Homo sapiens: one gene and its partners. The protein of the gene in region 4 interacts with the protein of the main gene of each other region in a pairwise test. Each region holds a gene or a part of one and is shown on either strand. Other genes may lie near its edges. The genes, in order: TMEM207, FDFT1, KCNA1 and JAGN1.

What was found.
Region 1: the proteins of JAGN1 (region 4) and TMEM207 interact in binary tests that used the Homo sapiens proteins (3 or more experiments, as listed by UniProt).
Region 2: the proteins of JAGN1 (region 4) and FDFT1 interact in binary tests that used the Homo sapiens proteins (3 or more experiments, as listed by UniProt).
Region 3: the proteins of JAGN1 (region 4) and KCNA1 interact in binary tests that used the Homo sapiens proteins (3 or more experiments, as listed by UniProt).

The regions. Positions count from the first base shown.
Region 1 is NC_000003.12:190,439,362-190,447,470, reverse strand, and holds part of TMEM207 (transmembrane protein 207 precursor), read left to right. Parts: intron 1-5,988; coding exon 5,989-6,033; intron 6,034-7,081; coding exon 7,082-7,227; intron 7,228-8,109.
Region 2 is NC_000008.11:11,833,286-11,840,452, reverse strand, and holds the end of FDFT1 (squalene synthase), read right to left. Parts: intron 2,066-7,167; coding exon 1,844-2,065; 3' UTR 1,155-1,843; downstream 1-1,154. UniProt on the Homo sapiens protein: Catalyzes the condensation of 2 farnesyl pyrophosphate (FPP) moieties to form squalene. Proceeds in two distinct steps.
Region 3 is NC_000012.12:4,904,399-4,912,904, reverse strand, and holds the start of KCNA1 (potassium voltage-gated channel subfamily A member 1), read right to left. Parts: upstream 3,001-8,506; 5' UTR 2,433-3,000; intron 2,066-2,432; 5' UTR 1,527-2,065; coding exon 39-1,526; 3' UTR 1-38. UniProt on the Homo sapiens protein: Voltage-gated potassium channel that mediates transmembrane potassium transport in excitable membranes, primarily in the brain and the central nervous system, but also in the kidney.
Region 4 is NC_000003.12:9,885,991-9,894,718, forward strand, and holds JAGN1 (protein jagunal homolog 1), read left to right. Parts: upstream 1-4,619; 5' UTR 4,620-4,732; coding exon 4,733-4,821; intron 4,822-6,818; exon of another isoform or gene 6,819-6,924; coding exon 6,925-7,387; 3' UTR 7,388-8,359; downstream 8,360-8,728. UniProt on the Homo sapiens protein: Endoplasmic reticulum transmembrane protein involved in vesicle-mediated transport, which is required for neutrophil function.

The DNA of each region.
Region 1 (8,109 bases), about 180 Mb from region 4:
TTCATCCACACTCAAAAATCACAGTGACCAAGGGAGGCAGTTTTCTGTATAACTCAGTTTAAAATACAAGCAAACTGACCAAAATTCTAACCTGTACTGTGTGTCTATTTCAAAGTGCTTGTGATATGAATTATGTGAACAATTGACTCAATTTTTTCACTTTTTGTGCGATAGACTTAATGGTTCTCAGAATTCTATTCAGGAGATGAAGAGAAGGTGCCATTAATAATGATACTGATAATTAATATCTGTAATTCATTGTGATTTAGTATCAGAAAAGCACTTCCACCCAGCACTATCTTCTCCTGCTTGCAGCCCTTACTGTTAGCAGCTGTTTTCAGTCTTCATTGCCTGTTACACTCAAAGCCATGCTCTCTGTATAGCAGGAGGCTATGACTGTATTTCACAGCAGAAATTGGGACCATTCACCTGCTTCTGGTGGATCTTCTTATTGTTAACAATCTGCTTATTAAATTTGTGCTGCTCTTTCAGCTTTTGCATGGCTCTCGATTGCTATTTCTTTACGTTAATTTTGGAACTGCTTTTTCACTCTGTCTTATGCTGTTTGTGATGTAACAGAGTATTTGATTGTTTGCATGCTTATCTGACTCAGGATTTCCTGGCTGCCCTTATCTTATCTCCTCATCTTCTGCCTTTGACCCAGACTAACAAAATAAAGAAGTTCAGAATTGGAAAGGATCTTAAATGTTGAATCTAACTCTAATCAACGTGACAGAAACATACGGTATTAAGAAAGTTTTTATGCTGACTTTAGCGGTAGCTGAGGCTACCGCTCTCCCTTTTAGGTGAAGGGATTGAAACCTAAGAGAAATAGTAAATGAGTAGTAGGGCTTCAACTGGTACTTAGGCATCACATTCTCTGGCTACATCATTTTGCAACTAAGTGTCTGTAATGGTTATCATTATTCAATACAATTGCTTTTGAGTAAAAACAAAAAAAAATTAACCCTCAAATGAAATGTAAATTGGCAGAAAATAAACACAAAAAAGAGAGTGGCTGGGAATGTAGGGTGGTCATATAAGGTAAGTAAATGTATTGAAGACGTGCACAATATCTCAAATCTTTTGTTATCGCAAGACAGTGTCAGCGGAATGAATCTGTAAGGAAAGTCATGCTGTTTTCTGAGGGAGTAAAAAGTCCCCTCCAAGAAAAATCCTCTTTCTCTAACTATATTTATACAAGAGATTTCAGTTTCAAATCACTTCTTTGATCTGAGACATTATCTCCTGATAAAATACACTACCCAGCCAAGAGACCATATTCATCCATTTACCAGCACTGCTATAAGAGAGTAACACACAAACATGGCAGATTACAGTGAAAAGGACCGTAAAGATGGCCTACTCCAAATGTCTTTTAAAAAATGAGAAACACAAAAGGACAGTAGCTTGTCCAAAGTTCACATGCAAAATGGACACAGAAAAGGGAGACTTGGATTGGAATGCAAGGGAGCATCAAAGTAAAAACATGAAACATGGATCGCCTAGGTAGAGGCCATGGTGGAGGAGGTGCTGATTAGCTAGAAATAAAAACATATGTATTAATCAACTTCTATGTTCCAAGAATTGTGCGAAACAATTTGCATATATTTTCCATTAAAACAAACAAACAAACAAAACTGGTCGACCGGGCGCAGTGGCTAACCCTGTAATCCTAGCACTTTGGGATGCCAAAGTGGGTGGATCACCTGAGGTGGGGAGTTCGAGACCAGCCTGGCCAACATGGTGAAACCCCATCTCTACTGAAAATACAAAAATTAGCCGGGCATGGTGGCACGCACCTGTAATCCCAGCTACTCAAGAGGCTGAGGCAGGAGTATCGCTTGAACCTGGGAGGTGGCGGTTGCAGTGAGCCGAGATCGCACCACTGCACTCCAGCCTGGGTAACAGAGCGAGACTCCGTCTCAAATAACAACAACACTGGTCTATTTTATTATTCCCTATTTAAATTTGTTTTCAACACCAGGGTACGTTTTTCTGATCCAATCCAATTATTTTACTTTTCTAACTGTATTTTTAACATGAACAAAGCTTTGCTGTGCTGTCTTTGTATAAAATTTAAATGCTATAAGTAATTTATTTTATGAAATAAAGCATGACAGAGCCCCTCTTATCATACTTCTGACTTAGTCCTCTTCTGATAAATAGCCAAGGACACTGATGTGCATGAATGAACAAAAATAGATTGATTTATGAAATATAAATATGACTATACATATAAAAGATTCTGTAAATTAATTGCATTGATAGATTTTCTAATGATATACCACATCTTGCTTGGCTTGATAAAGTGAAATATCTTACTCAAGAGTAGGAAAGCAAGTTAAAAGGCAGAGCTTGGACTTGGACCTGGGACAGACTCCTGAGCCCAGAATTTCAACCACAAAGTTATATTGTATATCCAACATTTAATCAATTATACATCTGGTGAAATACCTGAGATATGCATAGTCCATTCATTCTTTGAGATACTATACAATTTACTACCAGTTTCTGGGTAATATGATTTGTGACTCATCCATCCCTCAAATTACTGTAGCTGAATTGCACTTTGGCCTATGTTGAGGAATGACTTTTTAAAAATAAAAAAAAATTCATGCAATTTGTTACTGAATTTATTCTGAGAATACTATGGAAAACATTGTTCTTATGTTAACAGTGTTCTCTTTATGAGGCCTCATAGCTTGAATTTTTCTCTGGTTTCGATGCCAGGAATAGTTGTACATCTGGTGAGTAATGCTGTTCATTTTGTTAATTTTAGAGGACACTATATAACCAATATTCTCTCTCATTATGCTAGCTGCTAGGAAGCTTAAGTCAGATCTACAGTTCAATTCAAATTTTATATACGGTATTTACTATATTCGGTTTACAAACTGATCTCACTATTGGCCTATTCTCTGTCTGATCCTCACCAGGCTCTCATTTCTATTTTTTTTTTTTTTAATTTTCAGTATTTCCTTAAAGCATTTGGAACACGGGATACTGGATTCATTCAGGCAATACTCCACATGGTACTATGAGGTTAGAGCTGGCTATTACTGTCCCAGTCGCACCACGACATGGTGATAAGAGACATGAACTCTGCAGACAGAGCATTTGGGTTGAAAACCTACTTCTACCACTTCCAGCTATGCTAACTTGCGCAAGTTACTTAATGGCTCTGTGACTGAGTTCTCTCAGTTGTAAAAGGAGAATTATAATAGTATGACCCTACTGTATAGTGGTGTAAGTTTGAGAGTCCGTTATTTCACATGAAGTTACGCATCTGGTTTTAGAAGAGTGTCTGCCCTAGAAAATGCTGAGTGATGTAACAGAGAAACCAATGAAGCAACTCTGCATATTTCTTCCTGAATTTATCAAATTCATAAATGTGTAATCTAAGGTCCACAGATTCTCAGCACAGAGAAGAAGAATAAAGATCAACTCATCTAACCATTCGTATTGCACAGAAATCATCTCCATGACATCAAAGTAACAAAAGGAAATCGTTCTGATAAGGACAGAAATTATCTCCCTCAACAATTAATTCTAGATAATTCTTATTCCAAATGTCTTTCTTACGCATTATAGTCAGCTCTCACTTCCCCCCGATGATTTTCTTTTTACCATAATCATACCAATTTGACCAATCCCTGAGGAATAATTTCATTTTCAAAAATATAACCTTTCCTATACTGAATATCTTGGAAGTAATATTTGAGTAATTAGAATACTCTTACTTTTTTAGGAACTCAAAAAGTTTCTGTTTACAACTTGAATTTAAGAGAGAAATGGAAATAATGATTCGAGGAGGGGAGCATATGGAGCCAAAAGACACATGTTCCAGTGTAGTTCTCTGACTACGTAGTGAATTCCCCTCTTCCTCTCTCCACCTTAAGTCTCAGTGGTACACTGTGCAAAATCCTAAAGGTCAATAAATGATCTCAAAGATGCCTGCGATTTGGAGCTTACATGATTACTGCACTTCTCCAGCTAACTGCTTCCTAGCCATGTTATTTCTTATCAGAAACTCCACCAGAGGGTGCACCAGCTCAGAAAAAAAAGTGAAATAAAGTTGGTTTGGAAAATTGTTAGCCCAGGAAGAAAAAAAAATAGAGGGCCTTAAAAATTAGATTTAAGAAACACAATGAGGTGGTTAATATTTAGAATTGAGTTTAACGATAAGTAAAGGGGCTATTTTCAAACAGAAAAAAAGTAAAGGAAGAGGAGGAAGATGAAATAATCCATACTCCTGACCATGAGCTTAGATGTCACAATTCAAAAAAGAAAAACAAAACAAAACAAAACAAAAAAAAAAAAAAGCTTTTTTAATTGTGTCAGGACACCAAGAGAATTTCCCCACATCTGTCTCTTAAAAAATGTATATTTTTAAGGTTTTAATTTTTTAATACAATATTTTAAAGTTCTTTTTACTACAAAGTGATTCGTGTACATTACAATAATTCAAACAATATGAAAGGGATAGAGTTTTTCATAATGCCATCTTCAAGAGAAGTGGGCACTTCAGTAGTCTGGTGTAAATTTATGTCTGGTAGTAATTTTGGCGAAATCATTGTACTTGTAGAAAATAATATATACAAAGTAAGATTGAAGTCTCTATACTATTTTATGTAGCAAGACTTATTTATAAACATGTTTACATTATTTTTGATGATTGAATAATATTCCCTTGTAAGTATGTCCCATTAATTATTTTTCACATCTTTTATTCATGGCCATTTGTCTTAGGATGCTTTTCAAAGTCACACTTCAGTTGCCATTTTTTTTTTTCCAGCCATACCTGTGAATTTTGCTAAACACTCTGGGCGCTCAAAAGAACAAAGAGCAAATAAACAGAAAACAGACAAAAGAAAAAGACGCAGAGATTTATATGTGGAGGGGAATGAAATCATCTGTAGGCTGGGTGATTGGTTTTTGTCTTAAATGTTTGTGATAGAATTTTTAAATTGACACTTCACATATGTTAAAAGTCATTTCTGACTGGTATGATGATGGGATGACACACTGCCTCCTCAGGGAAGCTAGATGCAATAAATTAACTGACATTTATGAATGTCTTCAAACTGCAATGAACTGAGTTATTTTAACAATGGCTGAAGAAGATATGATTAAGTATAGTGTCTTCTCAGAAGTGTATCTGACTGTGAATAACAGATTTCCACTGTTCAAGCTCAGTTCAGAATACCTTAAAAGTAGCTTGTATATTGAGGTATGAAAAAAGTCCATCAGCCCACATACATTTAGTGTGCCATGTTAGGCATAGTGAGGGACTCTACACCTACGGAGTTATACCTCCCAAAAATCACTCTGTGAACTTTGTCTGTCTGCGATATTTTAAAACTTCTCTCAAGAAAGATTGAATTGTGGCTAGACACACACAGGAGGGTCAACTTCCTGACTGAAGGAGTCAACTTCTAACTCCTTGGTAAATGGTAGGTATGGCCACGTTCATTCATTTTCCTCCTAGCCTAATTTCTTTCCTCACCAATTGTATAACAAGAGGGCAAACAGTTGTCCAATGCCTCCTATTCTCTACCAAGATATTCTTCCCTGGAGAATTTGAGTTTTACATGACTGTAGGTCTCTAGATGAACAGAATATAGCTATAATGGTTATCTACCTAATACCAAACACCTACGATTTGTTGTCCCTGAAGAGTTAAGTCACTGCCTTCTCAATGCTTAACAGTATTTGTAACTCTAGAATCAAACCCATTATAATGCATTTATCTGTTTATGTATCAGTCTGATAATTTCACATTTACTTGTATTCTCAGTGCCTTGAATTGAGTGGGCATAAACATTTGCATAATTGTGCTGGGTGCGGGACGATATGGGCTGGTATGGGAATATGTAGGTGACTGTTCTGGAGAAACAAGTGTGATCAGTACCAATTTTATTGGGTGAAAGAAATAGGCTTTGGCTATCCTGAGTTCCAGGACTAACGCTCTCCCTTTATCACCAGGTGTGTAAATTATAATGACCAACACCCTAATGGCTGGTATATCTGGTAAGGATATCTTCCATTTGTTTTATATGACAGTTGGTGGTATATACAGTCTTTGTCCTAAATAATTTGAGATGGTACATGAAATCATACAGCTTAAGGAAAGATTAGGGGTCATGCAAATGAATATAGAAACATCACTTTCAGATCGTTGGCCAATGTTTACTTAAACACTTCTTGTGACAAAAGGACTCACTATTTTAAAAAATAAGCTTATTCTAGAGTTGAAAATCTTTAACAGCAAAATAATTGTTATTTGTCTTGAAATCTCCCTAAATGACCCTCCACTGATATTAGTTCTGGCCTTAAAAGGCATTCCAAATGACCACTGTCTCTTCTATGAGATAATCCTTCAGATTTTTTTTTTTCTCTGAGACACAGTTTTGCTCTGTCGCCCAGGCTGCAGTGCAGTGGCGCCATCTCGGCTCAATGCAAGCTCCGCCTCCCGGGTTCCCGCCATTCTCCAGCCTCAGCCTCCGGAGTAGCTGGGATTACAGGCGCCCGCCATCACGCCCAGCTAATTTTTTGTATTTTTTAGTAGAGACGGGGTTTCACCGTGTTAGCCAGGATGTTCTCGATCTCCTGACCTCGTGATCCGCCCGCCTCGGCCTCCCAAAGTGCTGGGATTACAGGCTTGAGCCACCGCGCCCGGCCCCTCTGCCTACTTTTGAATTCCTATCCCCAATATCTAAAGTGTGTGTAGTTGCTTAAATACTAACTGAATGGATGGATGGATGAATGGCTGGATGGATGTCTGAAAGGAAGAATGGATGAATGAATTAAGACTCTGTCTTTTAGAATAACCCTCCAATTTCTAAGGAGAAAATGATTATTACCACCTGGAAAGATCAACCCTTTCTGAGGCCAAAGAATATTTTCAGTTCAGTGGAAATGTATGGGTGGTGGTAGGAAATTGCTTAAGGAATTCAGTGTCCCACATTGCTTGCGGCCAGTCTAGCTGAGTCTTCACCCCACTTCTAGGTAGTGATGGAAGCTCTTAACTTCCCTGCATACTCTACCTCATTCTTTTCTCGGTTACTTTTGGAGTCAGGATCCTCCTGCTGCTGGTTTTGGTGGCAGCTCTTCTCTGTGGAGCTGTGGTCCTCTGCCTCCAGTGCTGGCTGAGGAGACCCCGAATTGATTCTCACAGGCGCACCATGGCAGTTTTTGCTGTTGGAGACTTGGACTCTATTTATGGTGAGTTGTCTGCACGCTTCTGGACTCTTTTTTGATACTTTGTGGTTTTGCGGTTAATTGAAAAACTGTTCTCCCAAAAGCAGATCTGGGAACTTAGAAAAAGATGTGGCTTATTGGAGACACCAAGGCCTGCACTGAGGAGAGTTTAAGGGAGAAAATTTCATAAGAAAGACAATCCCAGAAGAAAGAAAATGTGTCTTGGGAACTGACCCACAGTTAAGTATAAGGAAAGCAACTAAATATTTTGTTGTTCAATAAGCAGAAGAGAAGAAGTATGCAGGGCTGGGCAGTCCAGGTGAATGGTAGGGTTTAGGGTACTGCAAAGCATCTCTGAGCTTTTATTATCAACCTGTCTTAACTTGTATTTATAAATTCATTTACTGAGCTTTCTATGCTTTACTGAACTCATCTGAAGTAACATTGAACGACACTTTCCAGATGTCTGCGGTCAATGCAGAATCTGAAATTCCATGGAATAGTCAGGGGAATGTCAATTTTCATGCCCTTTCATCTCAGCGTCCTGATCCTGTCAGCTCCCAACTTCCCCTCCCAAAACCATGCCCTTCCCTTCATTTTCCAGTTTGCATAAGGAAGTAAAGAACAGAGGAAATTCAGGGCTTAGAGTTATTTGCAGCTGCCAGCCTTAGCTGTGAGTAGAAAAAAACAACTTACTGATTTCTGGGAAGCCATAATTGATAGCTATTTCTTCATCTTAAGTATTGGCTCAAGCAGGGACTGTTGTGAGACTTTATTCTAAGTTACTGCATTACACACTACAGTTACCTCGGGAGCGCTTAACAGAGATAATAGCTAAAGCCGTCTTTCAGAAACTGGGCCACCATGAAATTTACAATAGATGGAGCAGGGTGTGCCCTGGGGAAA
Region 2 (7,167 bases), on a different chromosome or scaffold from region 4:
AATGGTTTTGGGATGAAACTGCCACCTCAGATCATCAGGGACTAGATTCTCACAAGGAGCATGCAACCCAGATCCCTCACACGCGCAATCGCACCTATGAGAATCTAACGCCGAGTGGAGCTCACGTGATAATGTTCACTCACCCGCCGCTCACCTCCTGCTGTGATGCCCGGTTCCTAACAGGCCACGTAACAGAAGGTTTAGTGCCGGTCCTAGGCCTGGGGGTCGGGGACCCCTGGTCTGGCTGTATTCCATGTGGCAAGTTATCTTGGCTGGTGACAAATGAGTCCAGGGCTAAGCCTCAAATGAACCAATTAACTGAAGTCTCCCTGGGCCCAAACTAATTTTGGTGTCAGTGGTCACAGCAAGAAAGTGTGCTTACAACAATGCAAATCCAACGCTGCAGCTCGAAACAACTCAAATTCAATGATTAAGCCACCATCCACGATGGGCTGCAGAAGAGTAGACTTTATGAGTACCTGTAGCATTAATGGCTTCTAGAAAGTACCGAATGCCCTAGTACACCAATTCTCAACTCGAGGGTCCACAGGCCTCCTTGCTGCACTGAGCACCTCAGTGAGAGCACATCACAAGCTCTGCTGCACTGGAGTAGAGAGGAAGGTGAAACCCCGAGCAGAAGTACTGTTCTGCCCCCAAGCCAATCACCTGAAGACAGCTTTTGCCTTTCTTAAGACCTGAATATATAAACTGATAACTTTAGAAAACAAAAACTGCTGGGGGAAATTTTTTTTTTTTTTTTTTTTTTTTTTTTTTTTTTTTTTTTACAATTTTTTCCTTTTTTTGAGATGGAGTCTCGCTCTGTTGCCCAGACTGGAGTGCAGTGGCGCGATCTGAGCTCACTGCAAGCTCCGCCTCCCGGGTTTAAGCCATTCTCCTGCCTCAGCCTCCCGAGTAGCTGGAACTACAGGCACCCGCCACCACGCCTGGCTAATTTTTTTTTTTTTTAGTAGAGACGGGGTTTCACCGTGTTAGCCAGGATGGTCTCGATCCCCTAATGTCGTGATCCGACCGCCTCAGCCTCCCAAAGTGCTGGGATTACAGGCATGAGCCACCACGCTGGGCCATCAACTCCATTCTTGAGCTCCATCTTTTCCACAGTCAGGCAGGCTTTCAAGCGAACTGTACTTGACAAATGCAGAGCAATTAAATTCTTTATTATAAAAATCTCAAAAATGTCCACCTTTACTGGAGACCAATCTTCTAAAAGGTCAAAAGCAATCCTGCTGTTTCTCTCTGAAAGCTAAACTCCTTTAAATGAGAATACGAGAATACCCAGAATTTTATTCCCAGCCTTTGTGTGGAAAAGGCAGTTTGCATTCTTAGGAAACATCTAACTGTTACCTAAACCATAAATATTTCTATCTACTCCATTCAACCCAATTAAAGAAAACAAAATGATGAGAAAAATAGGAGCCGAACAGAAAGAAAATTCACATCATTTTCTACTATTACGAACATTCAAATGGTGCTTCAAATTAAATACTTTTAATTATCATTCTAGCCAGGATCATACTAAGTAGGATCTCATGACAGTCACATATGCAGCGACTTCACCTAAACCGTGGCACTGAATGCTCTGCCATGAGCCACAAGCAGCACAGTGATCATCACCCACAAGGACAGGTTGCTGGGATGAGGCACCCTTTCCTTTCATGTTTAGGTTCTTCTCACCTGCATTTCACTTTCCTAAAGGTCCCAGCCACACAGCGTTCTTTTAGGGATTAAAGTAGTAGGAAAAAAATAAAGAGAACACAACATCCATCCTTAAAGAAAAAAAGTAAATCCACTTTATGGTGGACTTCAGCTATGGACAAATTTGGGATCAGTGTTCTCCAGTCTGAACATAGTCTTCTGTTACCTGGGAGAGAGTGGTCAGGTACTGCCAGCTCAGGGCAGCCAAAAGCATGACAAACGACAGGTAGATGGGGGAGTAGTGGCTTCGGGAAATCAGCTGACAGTTGGGAAGATTCTGCGTCCGGATGGTGGAGATGATCTGCCTTGTTTTGCTAGAAGATGGGTCTGAGTCGGGGATTCTATGATAAATCTGTTAAAGACACAGGAAAAAATGATAAGTGCTATGTGCTTTACATTTTCCATGGCTACTTACAACAACCCTCCACTGGCAGGTATTTTATACCCATTTTACCAATGAGGAAAGGGAGGCTCAGAGAACATGAACATAACTTACCCAAAGCCATCCCAATGATAAGGTGGGGATGTCAGCCCCAGCTCATCTCAAAGCCTGTCTTCCTGAGCAAACAGGAGGCACAGGTGTGCATACTGCACCCAGAGGCCCTCGAGAGCAGCGGCTGAGCCACAATGATCTTCACATCCCCAGCACCTCACAGTGCCAGGCCCAATAAACGTCACCATAGTTCACGTAGACAGGCACAGACTAACATGACGAAAGGGAAATGCTGGAAAGACTGGGCAAAAGCAGCTTAGAAACAAGATGGAACACGCAGTACAGACCACAGCTTGACAAAGGGGGACAGGAACAGAAGCAGGGAGCCGTATGAACCACCCTGGAGTCCTCCCTGTGCCTCCCTCCCCACTCCTCCACAAGCCTCCCAAGTATGTGCAGAATCCATCTCTTCCCCTACATCCCTAAAATTACTGCCTGAGATTAGGCCCTGAGTGCCTCTCAGATGAGCTATCTCAGTCTCCAACGTGAGTCTAAGCTTAAATTCCCAAATCTACCTGTCTGCTCTACACTGTCACCAAGGAGATCTCAAACCTCTGCTTGATGCCTCAGTGGCACCAGCCCTCTCACCTGGAGAAAAAAAGCCTGAGCTCTGTAATGTGTAGCGCAAGGCCACCCATGGTCCAGACCTACTGCACCTGTCTAGTGTCACCAGCCCTTGCCCACCTCCCTCTCTACAGTCTAGTAACAGTTGCCGGGCCAGGCACAGTGGCTCATGTTTGGAATCCCAGCACTTCAGGAGGCTGAGGCACGTAGACTGCTTAAGCTCAGGCGTTTAAGACCAGCCTGGACAACACAGTAAAACCCTGTTTCTACAAAATGTACAAAAATTAGCCGGGCATCGTGGCATGCACCTGTGGTCCCCCAGCTACTTGGGGACTGGGGTGGGAAGATCACTTGAGCCTGGGAGGTGGAGGTTGCAGTGATCCGAGATCATGCCACTGCACTCCAGCCTGGATGACAGAACAAGACCCTGTCTCAAAAAACAAACAAAAACAAAAGAACAACTGTCTACTGTTGTTTCGCCCATGCGATGCTGCTGCACACCTCTGTTCCAGTCTCATACCACTCCTTCTCTCTGGAATGCGCCTCCCACGTCCCTTCAACTGGCTCCTACCTAGGCCCCCAAGTCTCAACTTCAGGATTATGCCTTCTAGAAAACCTGTCTGCAGCTCCAGGTTCAGCCAGGAGCCACCCTATTGTACATACCTTTACCTTTCCACTTACGTGGAAATGGACCATCTGTAGTTTTCACCCTGACTACACCGCACCTACTTACTCACCTTTTTATCTCCAGCCTAGCCCTGTGCTGGCACACAGCAAGCGTGCATCCCTGGCTAATTTTTGCATTTTTAATAGAGACAAGGTTTTACCAGTGTTGGTCAGGCTGGTCTCAAACTCCAGACCTCAAGTGATCCACCCACCTCGGCCTCCCAAAGGGCTGGGATTACAGGCGTGAGCCACTCCACCCAGCCAAGACTTTTCAATACAAGCATCCATAAAGTAAAATATATAGTGATGAGATAATTCTATTAGAAGTCATCCTTCTGCCTGCCCATGTTGCTTTACTGCTTGTCTTAGCCTTCCTCCTAAAAGCAGAACCTGAGGCAAAAGCTTGCATGCAGCCATTTATTTGGAAACGAGTGGAGAAGTGAAACAGAAGGCAGGAAGGCCTATCAAGGATGTGTTGAGTTGGCTTGATCTTGAGGGACCTTCAAGGAGCCTTATGAAAGGTGGCCCTGAGGAGCAGAGAGGTGGCCCTCACCTCCTCTGGGTTGTGGGGACCCACGTGCCAGGCAGTTCCTGCAGCTCGTCAGAAGCCCAAGGGCAGGAAGCGAGAGGTCTCTGGAGCAGAAGGCAAGGTCCAGCCCTACTTGGAAACTGGTTGCTACAGCAGTGGCCGAAGGCCAAGATGAGTGGCAGTGACACACAGGGTCTCACACACTACTCTTGTAAATGACCTGAGTGCCCTGATGCCATCAAAAGCCATAAAATAGGCATTCACTACAATGACCCTGAGAATAGTTTCTCAGGTAAGTAATGGTTTTGGTATATTGTAGATTTTTTTTTTTTTTTAAGATGGTGTCTCGCTCTGTCACCCAGGCTAGAGTGCAGTGGTGCAATCTTGGCTCACTGCAGCCTCCACTTCCCAGGTTCATGCGATTCTCCTGCCTCAGCCTCCCAAGTAGGTGGGATTACAGGCACCTGCCACCATGCCCAACTAACTTTTGTATTTTTTTTTTTTTTTTTTTTTTTTAGTAGAGACAGGGTTTCATCACATAAGTCAGGCTGGTTTCGCACTCCTGACCTCAAGTGATCCGCCTGCCTCAGCCTCCCAAAGTGCTGAGATTAGAGGCATCAGCCACCATGCTCGGTGACATTTCACTTTTGAAAATTTAAGACTTACCTTCTCAGAGCAACTGTACAAGCAATGTACAAATAAAGGATGATAACATCAGCACCAAACTACACACTTATTCATTCCTGGGTTAATTCTGTGGCTCCTATGACTTTATTTCTTCATTTTACTTTCTCATCTACTTGTACTTTGTTAGCCTGTTGTACTTATAACCATAAGCCATCTTACATCCTTTTGGGAAAAAAGATTTACTTATTTGGAATCAATCGCTGGCACCCAAGTGAATATACACAACCAACAAAAACCCTTTTAGAGAACTCCAAGAGCACTTCAATATGCCCTTCCAGGAGATAAGTAAGGTGAATAAATTAAGAGAAATCTTGGTTGTGACAGTCCCCGGTAATACAATTAGTGGCAAAACTTTTGAGTCCTTTGATGATCATTTCTAACATATAAGCATGACAGCACAACTGGAAGAGCTGCAGTCACTGGTACTCAGACGTGGACTTACCTAAAACAGAGCCGGTAAGGCCAAAGGGACCTTCTAGATGCTTCGTTGCTAGACCAAACCCCACTCTCCATTTACCTGAAGGCACACAGTAGGTTTCTGCAAACTCAATTATTCAGGTCTTAAAAACCTACTAGCCTCAATCAAGGAGTTACATCTGCTTGTCAAGGACAGGTCATAGCCGACTTTTCATCTACATGCCCGGCATAAAGTTGAAGCCAAATACTTGAGGGGTTTGAGAAAGGGCCTTCACCCTGTTGCCCAGGCTGGAGTGCAGTGGTGCCATCTCAGCTCACTACAACCTCCACCTCCCGAGTTCAAGCGATGCTCATGTCTCAGGCTCCGGAATAGCTGGGATGACAAGTGTGCACCACCACACCTGGCTAAATGTTGTATTTTTAGTAGAGACAGGGTTTTGCCATATTGGCCAGGCTGGTCTCGAACTCCTTACCTCAAGTGATCTGCCTGCCTCAGCCTCCCAAAGTTTTGGGATTACAGGTGTGAGCCACAGTGCGAGGCTTGATGATTAAATGACACAGGCTCCTATAAATGTTTACTAGACTGAAATAAGCTCTTGTGCAATGCTGTGCTACATACAGCAGCTCCTCTGTGAGTCCATGTGGTACTTCCACGTCTCAGCAGTTCTACTTACAACTGCGAATATGGAATCAGCTTGATCATCATTTAAAACTCTTGTCTATGAACATCTAAACTTCCATTAAAGCAAAAACATCATTTGGGAAAAAAAGGCAGATTCTGATTCGATACGTTTGGGTGGGGGCTGGATGTCTTAATGGGCTCCCAGGTGATTCCTGGCAGCTGCTGGCTGGGGACCATCCTTGAGCAGCTAGGCACCTGGGGCTCAAAGAGCCGGATGATTCTCTGACTTAACCACAGGAGGGCACAGGAAGTGTGCAGAGACACGAACAAGATTCTCCCTGCCAAGGAATTCACTTTGGCAGAGAGGGGAATGGGGGTTTCTGGCCGTTTGGCTGAGCATTTATTTCTATCCCAAAATAGCAGGTTGATCTTCTCCCCAGCTGACAAGCATCCAGGCTGGTTTGAAGCAGAGGCTGCTCCAGAGTGGGGTGAGGGCCCTGCAGTGTGGCCAACTGCTCGTGAAGACCTGGGGCTGCACTCCAAGCCCCCACTAAGCACTGGAGAAGCATGAGGAGGTCCTCTGGCAAGTCCCTTCCAGGTGCATGCTCGCTACAACACTAAGTCCAGAGATCGGACAGAGTCAACGTTTCTTCCTTTCTTACTACAAAGGACAGACTTGGTCAGCAAGGAGAAATAGGATCAGTGTTAATATCTGGACACCAGCAAGAGGCCAGACGACTTGTGGCTTCATACAAAATGTTTTCATTTAAAACTTTACTTGTAAAATGTCCTTACTGCTGAAACTAAAACCATTAACAGGTTCTACTGCTTAAGACTTAGAAATCTTCAAAGATTTCCCTAAATCAAATCAACTTAAGTATTAATATTAACATTTCTCCCCTAATGCCTTGAGTTTTACTGGGATAACAGAACAACTGATACCCTAAGTCAGAAGTCAGCAAACCTCTTATTCAAGGGCCAAAAAATATTTTCAGCTTTACAAGTCATCGCCTGTTGCAGCTCCTCAACTCGGCCGTCACATTGCAAAAGCAGCCACAGAAGACAAAGAAGCAAATGGGTGTGGCTGTGTTCTGATAACATTTATTCACAAAAACAGGGCTCAGCCAACTGTAGACTGCCCACCCTCGCCCTCAAACTATGAATTACAACCAGGATTTAATCCCAATAGTTAAGGAAAAACCAAATAAATCTGAATTTTAATATAGTAATGGAATTGGCCACAAAGTGTTTAAAAACTGGTTTCTAAAACTAGTGATCAAACTGCAAAACCAAAACACTCTCAACTACTTACTACATAAAATGTTTCTAGTTTATATAAAATGAATAAATAGTGCTTAATATAGCAGGATTCCATTTAGAAAGGGTAGTTGAACCCCTTAGAATTGGGGTTAACATCATGGATTCTGATGTCAGACAGACCTGGGTTCAAATTATGACCCTAGCCATGAGGCTGGG
Region 3 (8,506 bases), on a different chromosome or scaffold from region 4:
TGCTAAGTGGGGCTTTTTTGTTTGCTTGCCTTTGTTTTTTAAACATCGGTCAGTAGCTTGCTCTTATTAACGCAGTTTTGGTTAGCAGTGGTGCAATTGGCAGTTCTGATATTGACCTGTCTATAATGGGCTATGCTATTATTCATATCCTCTTCGATCTCCATGTACTCAGACTTGCTCATAGTAGAGGAACTGCGGCGACTGAGGTCACTGTCAGAGGCTAAGTTAGGGGAACTGACGTGGAGCAACTGAGCCTGCTCTTCCCCCTCAGTTTCTCGGTGGTAGAAATAGTTGAAATTGGACACAATGACAGGTACGGGCAGGGCAATTGTTAGCACACCAGCGATGGCACACAAGGAGCCCACGATCTTGCCTCCAATTGTCACAGGGTACATGTCACCGTATCCTACAGTGGTCATGGACACCACCGCCCACCAGAAAGCATCGGGGATACTGGAGAAGTGCGACTCAGCTTCTTCCGCCTCGGCAAAGTACACTGCACTAGAAAACAGGATGACCCCGATGAAGAGGAAAAAGATGAGCAGCCCTAGCTCTCTCATACTAGCTTTGAGGGTCTGGCCCAGGATCTGGAGGCCCTTAGAGTGGCGGGAGAGCTTGAAGATTCTAAAAACCCTTACCAAGCGGATGACCCTGAGGATGGCCAGGGAGGTGGCCTGCTCGCCCTTCTGGTTTCCTTCCTGCTCAGCTATCTCGGTGCCCAGCGTGATGAAATAAGGAATGATGGCCACAATGTCTATGAAGTTCATGATGTTTTTGAAGAAGTCCGTCTTGCTGGGGCAGGCGAAGAAGCGCACCACCAGCTCGAAGGAGAACCAGATGATACACAGCGTTTCCACGATGAAGAAGGGGTCTGTGAAGATGTTGGAATTGTAGATGACCGTGGTGTTGTCGATGCGGTGGACGGTGCCCGTGAAGTCCTTGTCATCCTTCAGCTCGGGGAGCGTCTCCAGGCAAAAGATGACGATGGAGATGAGGATGACCATGACGGAGACGATGGCGATGACCCTGGCGGGCCCCGAGCTCTCGGGGTACTCGAAGAGCAGCCACACCTGGCGCTGGTACTCCTTCTCGGGCAGAGGGCGCTCCTCCTCCTTGATGAAGCCCTCGTCCTCCCGGAACTTCTCCATGGCCTCCTCGCCCAACTCGTAAAACTTGATCTCCTCGGAGAACATGTCCAGGGGCACGTTGACCGGCCTCCGCAGGCGGCCGCCGGACTGGTAGTAGTAGAGGATGGCGTCGAAGCTGGGCCGGTTGCGGTCGAAGAAGTACTCGTTCCTCAGGGGGTCGAAGTAGCGCATGCGTTTCTTAGGGTTGCCCAGCAGCGTGTTGGGGAACTGCGCCAGGGTCTTGAGCTGCGTCTCGAAGCGCAGCCCGGAGATGTTGATCACCACGCGCTCGCAGCACTCGTGGTCGTCGTGGTCGGCCTGCCGGGGGTAGCTGCCATCCTGGGGGTGGCCCGGGGCGGCCGAAGCCTCGTCCACGTTCTCCCCAGACATCACCGTCATGGTGGAAGCCGGGCGCGGGGGTGGGAGGCCAGGAGAGAGCCCGGGGTGGGAAGCAGCCAGGGACCAGGGGTGGGGGGGACCCAAGCGGCCCCCCCACCGGAGCGCGCGTCTCCCTCACGCCCAGGGGGAGGTGCTTCAACACGAGCAGGTCGGGAGATCTGCGACTTTGCCTCTCGCTGCCTTCCCCTCCACCCTGCCTTTCACTCAGTTTGGAATCCCCCTCGCCTGCGGGCCGGGTGCAGCTTTTTGCAGAGGGTTGGGTTTGGGTTTGGGGGTTTGTTGGTTTTCTGTTGTTGTTGTTTAGATATTTCTTCCTGATCCCAGGTGCCTTAACGCAGTGCCGTTCTAGCGGACTGGGCCATTGCTTCGGGGGTCGCCCTGGCCTCCCCTCCCCTCCGAGAGCCTTCCTAGGACCCGGTGCAGTGCCGGCTCGGCAGATCCCCACGCCTGCCACCCTCTCTGCTTCTCCTCGGCTCTCCCCCCTCCTACCCCTCTTCGCCTGCCGCCTTCTAAGCTCCCACCAGGGCGATCGATGCACGCTGCAGAGAAATAGAAAGTGATACGGGGGTAGAAAATCAGAAGCATTCAGATGGGACGGACCTACAGACACCGAAGAACACAGACCTCTAGCTTGAGAAAGCACTGGACGTTTGCTAGGGCTATCACACACACACGGACAGACGACACGCAGACACCCGGAAATCCAAGTTTGGGGCTCTTCCATCCCACTTTCCCCAATGCCCAACAGCCGATCTGTTTACAACTTCGTTAAACTAGAGATCGGAAAAGCGCCGAGAGACGCCGGGGGAAGCTCAGGGTCCCGGACAGCATCCCCGCACCCCCGGCCTCCCCCACCCGGTCCCCCCAACCCCCGCTTCTGCATCCCCGAGCTGGGGAACCCCCTACCTGGCCGGCTGGCTTGGCGCAGGGGCGGTGCTGAGTCAGCGGAGAGCCCGAGTGGGAATGCGGCAGGTCGTCTTTGCAGTGCCCTGGCGGGAGCCGCGGCGGCCGCCGCAGCAGCATCCGAGACGCGCCGGGCAAACTCGCCGCCCTGGTCCACTCGTCCGACGCCCCTCTCAGTTGGACAATCGCTTTACGGAGCAGCTACGGCGAAAATGTTCCTTCCCTACCCCCATTCTCACCGGTTGCCAGCAACCTGGAGACGCCGTCCTCTCTCCGGTGCAGGGAGTTCCGGAGGATGCGGGGCGGAAAAGCAAAATACCACCCTCTCTCGAAGCTCCGAGGCAAATGACGATAAACAGCACTCTCGCCCCCTCCTAACACTATGGGAGCCCTTGATTCGATCCCGAAGGAGGCGGGCGGGCGAGAGCCTGGATCTACATGGCTCTCCAGTTCCCTTCGCTCTCCGCACCCCAGCGCGGACCTCGCCAAGGCTACGCGGCGCGCCAGGAGCCCTTAGGAGCTTGGAGTGGAGCAGGGTGCGTGCGGCGGCGGGTCCGCTCGGTCCATTTCTGGGCGCTGCAAGATCAGCAGAAACCTGAGAAAGCGCCTGGAATACCGAGCAGCGATTGGCCCACCCGGGCGTGGGTTGGGGAGGGCGGGGGAGGGCAGGAGCGAGGAGGTGGATGGAAAATATGAGGGGGTGGTTTGGAAGAGAGCGGGGTTGTCATTCAGTTCCCACCCTTGCCAGCACAGCTTTTTCCTCTCCTACCAGAAAAGCCGACCGCTAACTCTACTTCCCCTGTGGCCCGCCGCCCCGCCCACGAACGGCCCCTAGCGGCTCGCGACCTTCCCCGGGAATTTCACATTGGAAATGGTCAGGTCCGACGCAATGCAGGCGGTGGTGTTTCTGGCAAAACTCCTCCGACGGGTTTGCTTTTGTGCAGTCCCACAGTAACCCTCTTCGATCGCACTGCTCTGCGCCCCATCCCGCTCCTCCCCCAAGAAGGCCCTTGCTCTCTGCGGGGCCCACCCAGCTTCCCCCGCCGGCTGGACTCGCAGAGCTGCAGACTTTGGGCAGAGCTGTGCAGATGAGGATCCCTGGGTTTGTTCCATGTAGTTTTACTGGGCGGCGGCGGTACTAAGAGCCTGTCCCTCTTTAACCTACGATGGGACTTGAAGTTTTCTTACGATCCGATTATTCTGAAATACAGGGAATGTGACTTGTGGGGGACCGAAGGCTTCGTGGGTTTGTGGGGTTGTCTGCCAACTTGGTGCTAATTGGGAATAATCTGAGAAGCAAGTCGCCTACTCACCTCCCACCCTATGTCCCTCCTCCCGCAGCCTTTTTCCCCAGCCTAGTGCCTCCACAGGGCCACTTTCAAAGCTTGCAATTTATTTGGAAAGGGTCCCCCGCAGAGGCGCATGGCAGCAGGAGCCGGGGGCGTGTGCCTTGCCCTGCGAGTGCGGCTGGAGCTGCGCCCCCAGAGGCGCTGCATCTCCGCGCCTGCAGCGCGAGAAAAGGCAGCAGGCAGCTTGGTACCTCCAGGGCTGCGGAGTCTCTAAGGAGGCTGCAAGAGCCCAGAGTCGCCGCTGATTGGCTCCTCCCGCGGCCTTGGGACCACCCTTCTCACCACCGTTGCCTCCCGCCTACACCACCCACCTCCTTAATCAAAGCCAATGATTGCATCCTTCCCGCTCTATTGTGGCTAGTGGAAAGCAGGGGCCCCTGCGGGATTGCCCAGGCAGTGCAACAGTCCCTGTCTGGAACTAGTTAAATCCTTCCTCCAGATTCAGACGCCAGCATTCCTTTCAGAAAAACAAAAGTGTATGTTCCCTCCCCTCCTTCAGATCCGTACCCCAGCTTTTCTTTCATGAACAATGAGTTCTCTTATACTCCTCCTTCCCATATTAAACTCTTCCCCTTTCCCACCTTCCACACGCATATCCCTCAATCTCAATAGCTCCAGGGATCCCTACCTTTCTGCACTGCTGTTCTAATGCAAATAAATATATTTTTTAAAAAAATTTAAAAATAAAAACAAAGATATAAATATGAAGCTCCCAGCTGAAGTACTGCCAAGTCTTTTGGTTTTGTTGCTGCTGCCACTGCTAGAACCCTACTGGGGATAACCCTACGAGACAAGGGTTTTCTGACCATATCCTAGCACTACTGAGCTTCCCTATTCTCCACTTTATCTGTCCTTATCTTGTACCTCCCTCTTCCTATAACCCATTGCCTTCCTTTAAATGTCCCTAAGACTGTCATCTTCCTAGCTTCTTGTGAATGCATGTGCCCTGACTCAGCATTAGGAGATTGCCTTACTACAAGGGATTCACAGATTGGATGAGATCCCAGGTTCCTAAATTCCGGGTTTTATTGGGGGGCATATTAGGAAATCTTCCACATCTCTGATAGATGTGTTTACAGCAGGACTGGACCTCCAAGGGACTGGAAGAAAATTGTGAGCTGGGAACTCAGCATTCTCCTCCTCCTCCTCCTTCTTCCTCTTCCTCTTCTTCCTCTTGTTCTTCTTTGAGACAGAGTGTAGTAGTGTAATCATAGCTCACCGCAACCTTGAAGTATTGGGCTCAAACAATCCTCCCACCTTAGCCTCTGGAGTAACTGGGAGGACAACAGGCACAAGCCATCACTCCTGGCTAACTGGAACTCAGCATTCTTGATGGAAGTCCTCCCTTGGTAAGGGTCTGAAGATATTTATTAATTCAACAAATATTTGCCCAGCCCCAGCTATGGGCCAGATGGTGCCCTTGCACTGGAATGGAGACATATAAGGTCCCAGGTCTCATGGAGCTCATATTCTGGTGGGAGATACAGACAATAAACATATACGTCATACATTATAGTGTTAGATAAAGAAAATTAAGAATCAGGCACAGCAAGTGACAAATATAGGTTTGCAGATAAGAAGGGCCTCTCTGCAGAAGTAACATTTGAACAAAAAACATCAAGAAGAGAGAGCAAGGAACAGGAAGATGAAAGGATGGGTGTAAGAGCAAAGGTCCCAAGGCAAGGACAGACTCAGCATATTCAGGAAACAAGAGAGCCAGTATGGCCAGAAAGAAGTCACTGAGAAAGAATGTCATCAAAGGTAGGTCAGAAAGGCAGGCAGAGCCCAGATCATGCAGGGCCTCTAAGGCTATGGTAAGAATAGTTCATTTCATTCTGAGTACAATGGGAACCTACTGGAGGATATGCATCAATATAGCAATATGATTTGCATTTCTTGGAGATTATTCTGGCTACTAGAAACAAGACACAAGGTTGGAGGTTACTAAGTAGCATAAGCAATGTTGGCTTAGATGAGGGAGACTGTGGTGAGCTTGTAAGGAGTTTTTGGAAGAGAATTACATTTTGAAATAGAGATGGCAGAATTTGGGATGTGAGGAAAGAAAAGTTTTAGGACTGTCTCCTAGGCTTGTGGCCTTAATAACCAGATAAATGGTAATATCATTTACTGCAGGAGTGTCCCAAACAGTTTCGCTCCTACCTAGATGTGAGTTCCTTGAAGTCTGAGATCTTCTGTGTCTTCTGAGATCTTCTGTGTTGGGCAGCTTAGGAGCTCCTTGAAGTCTGAGACCTTGTGTGTCTTAGTTGTCACTGTATTGGGCAGCGTAGGCCATCTCCTCAGATTCTCTCCAGCTCACCATTGTCTTGTCCAATGGCCACTTGCCCCACTGCAGGTGCTGCTGGAAAAGTCAACTCGATGGGTGGCAGAGTTCTGCCTCTTGAAGTTGACAGCACTGCAAGGAGTGGAATCTGGATTCCTCAAGACTGCAAAAAGGCCTAGGTGAGTAACACAAACCTAGGGGTGCATTAGCTCAATGGACCAAGAGGAGCTTGCCCAGTGGGAGATGCAAGCTAGGATGGAGCTCGTCGGTAAATCCCCTCTACCTTTATTATTTTCATGGCCAAGCAACCACATGGTCTAATGAAAAGGCTGTGTCTCTTTGTGACTCATGAAGCAGTAACTAGTTTGGTAACTCTTCTCCTTGGATCTGCACCCTGTCCTTCCCTGTCTCACTCTCCTTTTCTCTTCCTCTCATGGTTCTGGCTTCACACCTCCCATTAAAGCATTCGCACATAATCCTGTCTTGGGTTATGCTTTCTAGGGAAGCTGAGCTGAGGCATGGGGAATCACAACTTTGGTTTGGGACATGTTACCTTTGAGATACCTAGAAATATGCAAATGAGGATGTTGAGTAGAAAGTTAAACATACAAGGTTAGAGTTCAGAGAAGAGGTCTGGGTAGATCAAGGTTTCTCAACTTTAGCACATTTGGGCTGAATACTTTTTATTGTTGTGGGGTGTGGTCCTGTGGATTTTAGTATATTCAGCAGCTTCCCTTGCTTCCAGCCATTAGATGCCAGTAGCACCTTCCCCTAGTTGTGACAACCAAAAGTGTTTCCAGACAATGCAAAAATCACCCTCAGCTGAGAACCACTTGGGTAATTAAAGCCAGAGTAGCAGATTACAGAGATTACAGCACTTGAACCTGAGGGTAGAAAAGGAAGAGGAAATATGCAGAGATCATGCCTTGGGACGCTCTAATGCTGAGAGGTCGATAAAAGAAGGAAGAGCCACCAAAGGAAACTGAGAAGGAGTGATGATGAGGTGAACAAAACAGGAGAATGTGGGGTCTGCAAAACCAAATGAGAACAGTATGTTAAGAAGAAGGGAGATATCAACATTGTTGCTTACTGCCAGTAAGATGAGTAGAATGAGGAACATAGAAATGACTATCAGATTTAGAAAAATTGAGTTGAAAAGAGATTGAGAGAGAACTGAGGACAGTAGGTAAAAACAGCTCTTGGAGTTTTGGTGCCCAGGGGAACAGAAGAATGGGGTAGTAGACTGAAGGAAGATGATGAGTGATGAGACTTTTTTTAAAAAAATGATGAAATCTATTACAATATGTTTGTATGCTAAGGGCAATGACTCAGTAGAAAGAAAAGAAATAGTGATGTGGTAGAAAGAGAAAAATCAGAGCAATGTTCTTGAGAAAGCAAAAGGAGAATGGAATCTAAGACCCAAAATAAGGGATTGGCCTTGGAAAAGGGCAATTTCTCTATAGAAATGGGAGAGAGACAGAGAGCAGAAGTCAGCTGCAAGTAATTGAGTAGAAGTTGTGGGAGTTAGTGGACATTCACCTATGCAATCAGAAGAAATTTTCTCAGTAAAAAGGAAAGCAAGGTCATCAGCTGAAAGTGAGGATGGGGAAGGAGGCCTTAGAAATAGGAGGGGTGGCCAGACGTGGTGGCTCATGCCTGCAATCCCAGCACTTTGGAAGGCCAAAGTGGGTGGATCACTGGAGGTCAGGAGTTCAAGACCAGCCTGGCCAACATGGTGAAATCTGTCTCAACTAAAAATACAAAAATTAGCTGGGTATGGTAGCGTGCACCTGTAGTCCCAGCTACTTGGGAGTCTGAGGCAAGAGAATCACTTTAACCCAGGAGGCGGAGGTTGCAGTGAGCCAAGATTGAGCCACTGCACTCCAGCCTGGGCAACAGAGCAAGACCCCATCTCCGAAAAAAGAAAAAAGCAAATAAAAGAAAAGAAATGGGAGGGGAAAACTGCAAAATAACCACTTAGGAGAATTGGAAAGTGAAAGGGTTGGGGAATGTAGCAGGGTTGCCTGGCAGCACCGAGGGCTCACTTGTGGTGAGGAACCATGCAATTAAGTAATTGGGCACTGGGTGTCTGAGATTAACTTGGAAGTGAGTCAGGATAGAATTCGTCCTGATGATCATTTATGAAAAAATGTGCACTCGTTCTACATGTAGTGTCCTTCTTAAGATCAGTTTCTTAAGTGTTATACAGTGGTAAGGCAAGAGACGGCATGAAGGGAGGTGGTCATACTAGGCAGGAATATGCCCACGGACTCACTATAGACCCTGTTGAGGGCAGTGTCACAAGCAGAGGAATGGGGGTCTTACAAGATTTGAAGTATAATTGTAAAAAGTAATATAGAACAAGTAGGACTTGAAAGGGAAAACTCAGAAGTCACCAAGGATTTAAGATGACAATGAGTAATATGGAGTCCTCTTGGTGGCATTAT
Region 4 (8,728 bases):
AAAGAGTAAGGATGTTCTTTATGTTTCTTCATGATCTGGAGAAAACAGTCAAGATATATTGTTCAGTCAAAACAAGGCAGGGTCAGGGCACAGTGGCTCACACCTGTAATCCCAGCAGTCTGTGAGGCTGAGGCAGGAGTATTTCTTGAGGTCAGGAGTTCAAGACCAGCCTGGGCAACACAGTAAGACCTTGTCTCTACAAAAAATACAAAAATTAGCTGGGTGTGGTGGCACACATCCCAGCTACTCAGGAGGCTGAGGTGGGAGGGCCCCTTGAGCCTAGGAGTTCGAGGTTGTAGTGAGTTATGATTGTACCACTACACTTCAGTCTGAGCAAGACCCTGTCTCTAAAAATATAAATAAAATAAGGCAGGGTGTGGTGGCTCATGCCTGTAATCCTAGCACTTTGGGAGGCTAAGGCAGGAGGTTTGCTTGAGGCCAAGAATTTGAGACCAGCCTGGGCAATATAGCAAGACCCCCATCTCTACAAAAAATGTAAAATAAGCCAGGTATAGTGGTGCATGCCTGTAATCCAAGCTACTTGCATGGCTGAGGCAAGAAGTTCACTTGAGCCCAGGAGGTCAAGGCTCAGTGAGCCATGATGGTACCACTGCACTCCAGCCTGGGCAACAGAGCAAGACCCTGTCTCAAAAAAAAATTAATTAAATAAAAAATAAAAATATCATTCTGAGAGTCTGTAGTTTCCCCAGGCTGCCAAGGAAATTCATGGCACAAAAACAGCTATGAACCTCTGCTCTAAACAGCTATGCCTTTGCATTAGCATCCTTTCTGTATGACCATTTGCATTTTCTTTTTGAGACAGGGTCTTGCTCCGTTGCCCAGACTGGAGTGCAATGGTGTGATCATGGCTCACTGCAGCCTCAACCTGCTGGGCTCAAGTGATCCTCCATCTCAGCCTCCTGAGTAGCTGAGACTACAGACATATGCCATCCTGCCTGGCTAATTTTATTTTTAGAGATAGGTTCTTGCTATGTCGCCGAGGCTGATCTCGAGTTCCTGGACTCAAGCAATCCTCCTGCCTCAGCCTCCCAAAGTGCTGGGATTATAGGCATGAGCCACCATGCTCAGGGTCTCATCATGTTGCCCAGGCTGGCCTCAAACTCCTGAACTCAAGCAATCTTCCCACCTCAGCCTCATGAGTAGCTGGGACTACAGGTACATGCCGCCGCAGCCAGCTTATTGTTTGGCTTTTGAACCATGTAAATGCATTACCTAGTCAACATTTTAAATTAAAAAGATATTCTTAGGCCCAACTTTGGGGAATGATTCATTTGGGTAAGGGTGGGGCCCAGAAATCTGTGTTTTTAACAAGCATCTTGGATGAGTCTATCACAGATGGTTCTAGACCAGGCTTCACAGACAGCAAAAACGATGAGAACTAATGTGGAAGCAGGTGATCCTTGGTGCAGTAAGATGGGTCCCAAAGTGTCACCAGGATTTCCACAGGGCAAAGAAAGACATTCTAGAGAGCCTGGGGGGAGGTGACAAATATTCCTGGCCCATTTCCCCAGAGGTCCCGAACCCTCTTAGTTATCCCTCAGTGGGTCCTGAACCGTCATCCCTTAAACAGGACAGTAACAGATCTGGTAGTAAAAATCCTGCAGCCCTAGGGCCACTTTGGTCTGAGTTCTTATAGTGCAATTGCTGCGTGATCCTGGGCAAGTCACTTCCCCTTTCTGAGCCTTAATTTTCCCTTGTGTAAGATAATGATAACAAAAGTAATTATCTCCAAGGGTATTGGAAAAAGAGAATGAGTTCACGTGTGTGAATATGCCTGGCATAGAGTAGGTACTCAATAAATGTTGCTGATTTCTTTTCTCTCACTCTGTCGCCCAGGCTGGAGTGCAACAGTATGATCTCTGCTCACTGCAACCTCCGTCCCCCAGGTTCAAGCGATTCTCCTGCCTCAGCCTCCCGAGTAGCTGGGACTACAGGCACGTACCACCACGCCTGGCTAATTTTTTGTATTTTTAGTAGAGACGGGGTTTCACCGTGTTAGCCAGGCTGGTCTCGATCTCCTGACCTTGTGATCTGCCCGCCTCAGCCTCCCAAAGTGTTGGGATTACAGGCGTGAGCCACTGCACCCAGCCTTTTTTCTTATTTTTTTAAAATTTGAGACAGGGTCTCACTCTGTTGCTCAGGCTGGAGTGCAGTGGTGTGATCTCAGGTCACTGCAACCTTCGCCTCCCGGGTTCAAGGGATTCTCCTGCCTCGGCTTCCCAAGTAGCTGGGACTACAGGCATGCGCTACCACACCCTGATAATGTTTGTATTTCTTTTGGTAGAGACAGGGTTTCACCATGTTGACCAGGCTAGTCTTGAACTCCTGACCTCAAGTGATCCACTGCCTCGGCCTCCCAAAGTGCTGGGATTACAGGTGTGAGCCGTGCCCGGCCAATGTTGCTGATTTCTTGCTTGCCTTTCTCAGATCCCAGCCACACAGACTCCCTTCCTAGTGTGAGCCCCTTGCTGGTCATATGTGCTCTTGTTACCCACCTACAGATGTTAAATCCCAAGGAACTCAAATCTGTTCCTCTCTGTCCATTGCCACCTCCTAGCCCAAGCCACCCCTAGGATTGCCTGAATTACTGCAGTAGCCTTCAAGTGATTCCTCTGCTTCACCCTTGGCCCCTGCAAGCCATTCTCTACACAGCAACTAGATCTATCTTTATTTATTTATTTACAGACAGTGTCTTACTCTGTTGCCCAGAATGGAATGCAGTGGCATAATCATGGCTCACTGTAACCTTGAACTCCTGGTCTCAAATGATTCTCCCACCTCATCCTCCCGAGTAGCCTGGACTACAGGCACGCACCACCATGCCAGTTAATATTATTTTATTTTTTATTTTTGTAGAGACGGGAGTCTCACTATGTTGCCCAGGCTGATCTCCTGCCTTGGCCTCCCAAAGTGCTGAGATTACAGGCTTGAGGCACTGTGCCCCCACCTAGACCTATCTTTTAAAAATGCAAAACTGTGTCATTTTCCTGGTTAAACCTTTTAGTGGTTCCCCAAACCCCCTGGGATAAAGACTTAACTCTTTACTGAACCCTCCAAATGCTCCAGTCACTCTTAAGTTTCTCAGTTCTTTGAAGAGCCAAGTGCTCTCTGGATTTGGGGCCTTCACACATGCTGTTCCCTCTGCCTGAAAAGCTCTTCCGCTCCCCACCTCTTTAGCCAATTCCCACTCAGGCTTCAGACCTCAGCTCAATTGCTGCCACTCCAGAGAGACTTTCCTAACCCTCCAGGTCAGGGAGAGAGGCCTCATTTTTCCTCCCTCAGCCTCCTGTGTTTTCTTGAATTTCTTAGCTTCATGGGTACAAGTTCTTCCCCCGACTGGGCTGGGATCCCTCAGGGGAAATGGACCATGTTTATTTCTGCGTCCCCAGGTCATAGCAGAGCATCCTGGTGCATGGAAGATGCTCACTATACATGCTTTTTTCTTTCTTTTTTTCTTTATTCGGATAATATAACTTCTTTCTTTAAAGTTTCGCTTAGTATTTTGTTGTGGTAAAATGCACATAACATAAAACTTACTATGTTAATCATTTTTAAGTGTACAGTTTCCGTGGCATTAAGCACACACATATAGTTGTGCAATCAGTACCACCATCCATCTCCAGAACTTTTTTCATCTTCCCGAACTGAAGCTCTGTACCCATTAAACACTAGCTCCCCATTCTCTGTCCACCCCTCGAGCTTCTGGCAATGGTCATTCTACTTTGTCTCTACAGATAAAGTTTATTTGGAAATAATTTTTCTTTCATGGCCTTGACATTTTTGAAGAGTACAGTCCAGCTCTCTTCTAGACTGTCCCTCCGTCTGGATTTATGTCATTTCTTCATGATTAGATTCAGTTAGGTATTTTTGGCAGAAACATCATAGAAGTGATGCTGTGTCCTCAGTCTATTAAAAGAGGCACAAGATATCAGTTTATCTCATTATTGATCAAATTAACTGACTATATGTTTAAGGGAGACAAGCCAGATTTCCTCACTGAGAGATTCCCTGTTTCTCTTTGCAATAATTAAATGTGAGAAACTTATTTTGAGACAAAGTCTCACTCTGCACTCTGTCCCCCAGGCTGGAGTGCATTGGCACAATCTCGACTTACTGCAACCTCTGCCTCCCTGGTTCAAGCGATTCTCCTGCCTCAGCCACCCAAGTAGCTGGGGTCACAGGAACCCACCACACCTGGCTAATTTTTGTATTTTTAGTAGAGACGGGATTTCACCATGTTGCCCAGGCTGGTCTTGAACTCCTGACATCAAGTGATCCACCCACCTCGGCCTCCCAAAGTGCTGGGATTAAAGGTGTGAGGCTGTGTGAATGATGTGTGCTCCAGGGAAAGTCATAGAATATATCAGTTTCCCCCTCTGTAAAGTGTGGACAGAAGTATCCTAACTGATATTACAGCTTAAGAAAGTAAAAGTGTTCAAGCGGCCTCTGGGCGCCAGCAAAAGAGGCTGGGGATTAATTTCCTGCGCGCTCCACAAGAGGCGGGGCTGGGCGGGGCGGGGGCGAGAGGGAACGAGGGCGCCTGCGCGGAGAGGAGTGACCATAGAGTCGGTCCTCCAGAGACAGAGGGGCCGGAAGTTCTCTTCACGGAGCCGCGCGGCTGCGGGGGCGCAAATAGGGTCAGTGGGCCGCTTGGCGGTGTCGTTGCGGTACCAGGTCCGCGTGAGGGGTTCGGGGGTTCTGGGCAGGCACAATGGCGTCTCGAGCAGGCCCGCGAGCGGCCGGCACCGACGGCAGCGACTTTCAGCACCGGGAGCGCGTCGCCATGCACTACCAGATGAGGTATGAAGTGAGGCGAGGAGCACGGAGGCTTTCTCCCCCGCTGGAGCCTGCGGGGCTTGGGGAGCGACGCCGGCCCGGCCTCAGGGTCTTGCTCCCCAGCCAGCCCCCGCTCACCTGCCAAGTCCCCTCCTCCCGTGACGGCTTCGGGCCTGTCCCCCATCCTGGAAAGCCCCGTGGCCCCCGCGAGCTCCACCCCTTGTTCCGCCCGGTGCCTTGAGGGGATCCAGCCCCGCGTGGGCTCCCGCCCTGCGTGGGCTCCCGAGTCACGTCGATGCTGGCCCCGCTGTATCACCTTCGAAACCGAATTTCTAATTTGAGCCTCAGCTTCCTCATCTGTAGAGGGAGAGAATAATCTGCCTTTTAGGTTTTGGTGAAAGATTAATCAGTAATTCGTGTAAAGAAAGTAGCATAAGGCCTACCACGTAATATATGGTAGGTGTTATATTTTGGGCCGTTTGGGGGGATATAGACAGTAAAAGGCAGCCTTTCCTAAGGACGCCTTGCCTAAAATGAATTTTATAAACACTCCCACGTAAGGGGTATTTCTACATTCAATTACTAGTTCGACAAATACTGAGCTTCCAAACATCATACACTGCTAGACACTAGGTTATAATAGTGAGCAAAAGCAGACGTGGTCTTTGTATACATGTTATACCTTCAATAAACAATTTTATTAAAGAAAAAAAAAACTGTTCCCTGCCTTCATGGAGCTTGAAGTCTAGAGATGACTGTTTTTTTTTTCCAACCTTTCCACATTTTCTACAATAAATATTTTTAAATAAAAATTTTAAAATTTTTACTTCCTTAAATCCATTGATCTCTCCCAGAATGTTCTTCACATCTCTCTCTCCAGAGTTTTAAAGAATGACAAGCTCTTTGAACTCTCATTTGTTTCACATCTCTAGGCCCCGGCTGAAAGGGCCCTCACAACTTAAGCAGGTGTTTTCATGCCAGCCCAGAGTAGAAACATTGCCTTTAGGGATATGAGGAGGATACGTTTGGGACGTGAGAGAATTAGAAGAATAAGATAAGTATGTACTTCTTTTGGATGAAAAAATCTAGCTGGAGAAGTATGGGCGGCCTGAGTACGTTTCCTCTCTGCCAATACCTTCTCCCGCCAGACTTTAATCCTATGGTGCAGTCAGCGTCCTCTTGCTAAACACAGCTCTGAGCTACCCTTCTGCCTTTATTATTATTATTAATTTATTTATTTATTTTTGAGACGGAGTCACGGTCTGTCGCCCAGGCTGGAGTGCAGTGGCGCGATCTCAGCTCACTTGTAAGCTCCGCCTCCCGGGTTCACGCCATTCTCAGCCTCAGCCTCCCGAGTAGCTGGGACTACAGGCGCCCGCCACCACGTGCTGCTAATTTTTTTGTATTTTTAGTAGAGACAGGGTTTCACCGTGTCAGCCAGGATGGTCTCGATCTCCTGACCTCGTGATCTGCCCGCCTCGGCCTCCCAAAGTGCTGGGATTACAGGCGTGAGCCACCGCGCCCAGCCCTGCCTTTTTATTAGTAGTATTGTTGTTGTTTTTTTTTTTTATGGAGATGGGGTCTCATTTTGTTGCCAGGCTGGTCTCGAACTCCTGGGCTCAAGCAGTCCTCCTGCTTCAGCCTACCAAAGTGCTTGGATTAGAGTTGTGAGCCCAGCCTCTTCTACTTTTAACTCTCATAGTCTTTGTGATTCATATCCCACTACCCCTCTCCCCCTAACAATATGTTCCTGCCACACATAACCACTTGCTTTCCTGGAACACAAATACTTGGGCCTTTTTGTCTGCATGCTCCTGCATGGGATGCCCATCTTCACTCATTCCTGAGCCTAGTTCAGATATCACCTGCCTCTAGATAGCCATCTCTGACATTCCATGCCAGGCAGAGTTGATTCCTCCTTCCTGTGATCCCATATATCTGGGAACATATATTTACTAGAACTTTTTCACTTCATTTTCTAATTACTTTTTCCTCCTCTGTTCTTTGTGTCCGGCTTCTAGGCTGTTTTATTCAAATTTGTATCCCAGTGTCCAGTACAGTTGTCTGGCATATAGTTGGTGGTAAGAAAAATTTGAAAGATACTTCTCCCTCTGCTCTGCCCCACAGTGTGACTCTCAAGTATGAAATCAAGAAGCTGATCTACGTACATCTGGTCATATGGCTGCTGCTGGTTGCTAAGATGAGCGTGGGACACCTGAGGCTCTTGTCACATGATCAGGTGGCCATGCCCTATCAGTGGGAATACCCGTATTTGCTGAGCATTTTGCCCTCTCTCTTGGGCCTTCTCTCCTTTCCCCGCAACAACATTAGCTACCTGGTGCTCTCCATGATCAGCATGGGACTCTTTTCCATCGCTCCACTCATTTATGGCAGCATGGAGATGTTCCCTGCTGCACAGCAGCTCTACCGCCATGGCAAGGCCTACCGTTTCCTCTTTGGTTTTTCTGCCGTTTCCATCATGTACCTGGTGTTGGTGTTGGCAGTGCAAGTGCATGCCTGGCAGTTGTACTACAGCAAGAAGCTCCTAGACTCTTGGTTCACCAGCACACAGGAGAAGAAGCATAAATGAAGCCTCTTTGGGGTGAAGCCTGGACATCCCATCGAATGAAAGGACACTAGTACAGCGGTTCCAAAATCCCTTCTGGTGATTTTAGCAGCTGTGATGTTGGTACCTGGTGCAGACCAGGCCAAAGTTCTGGAAAGCTCCTTTTGCCATCTGCTGAGGTGGCAAAACTATAATTTATTCCTGGTTGGCTAGAACTGGGTGACCAACAGCTATGAAACAAATTTCAGCTGTTTGAAGTTGAACTTTGAGGTTTTTCTTTAAGAATGAGCTTCGTCCTTGCCTCTACTCGGTCATTCTCCCCATTTCCATCCATTACCCCTTAGCCATTGAGACTAAAGGAAATAGGGAATAAATCAAATTACTTCATCTCTAGGTCACGGGTCAGGAAACATTTGGGCAGCTGCTCCCTTGGCAGGCTGTGGTCTCCTCTGCAAAGCATTTTAATTAAAAACCTCAATAAAGATGGCCCTGCCCACACTGTGCCTTGTGTTTGGGGCTTGATAGAGTGTGAAAGGTGTGTTGCTTGAAAGGTGTGGCCTTAGACACTAGGAGATGATGGGTAGAAGCTCCTTGAGAAACCTAGCAGTGGCCATAGAGAAGTAGACTGGGTATGGGGAACCTAAGTCATAGTTGTAACCTACAGCTGATTGGTAAGAACTATGGGCCAGACATTTAATCTCTCCATCTATGAAATAGTCCATTCTCATTTATCTACCTTAGGTTATGGGCTCTTCTTTTAGTTGGATATTCACATTTATCTTTCAGTGTTAACTGGGTATCAGTTATGAGTCTACTACTGTATAATGGCATCCAAAAGAATTTTAAAGTACCTCGGTTTATAGGGATTTACAATTCAGTAGAAACTTGTTATTCATGTGAAACAGTGAACATAATATCTAATGATGTGGAGCAAGTACATTAAAAACAGGAAGGAAGAGATCTGTGATTAAACTAAAGGCCCTTTCACACCTAAAATTCTGGCAGTATTTATTGCATGAAAGATAATGTGTCTCTTTGCACTTGATTTTATTGTCTCTGGATGATGCCCAGATCTGTAACTGCAGAGCTCTGCCCTCTCCAGAGATGTAGTCATTATTTTGTTCTAGAAACATTGTGTATGTAGTTAGTCATTACTGAGTCACTTTTTTTTTTTTTTTTTTTTTAATTGAGACGGAGTCTTGCTCTGTCGCCCAGGCTGGAGTGCAGTGGCACGATCTCGGCTCACTGCAAGCTCTGCCTCCCGGGTTCACACCATTCTGCCTCAACCTCCCAAGTAGCTGGGACTACAGGTGCCCACCACCACGCCCGGCTAATTTTTGTATTTTTAGTAGAGACGGGGTTTCA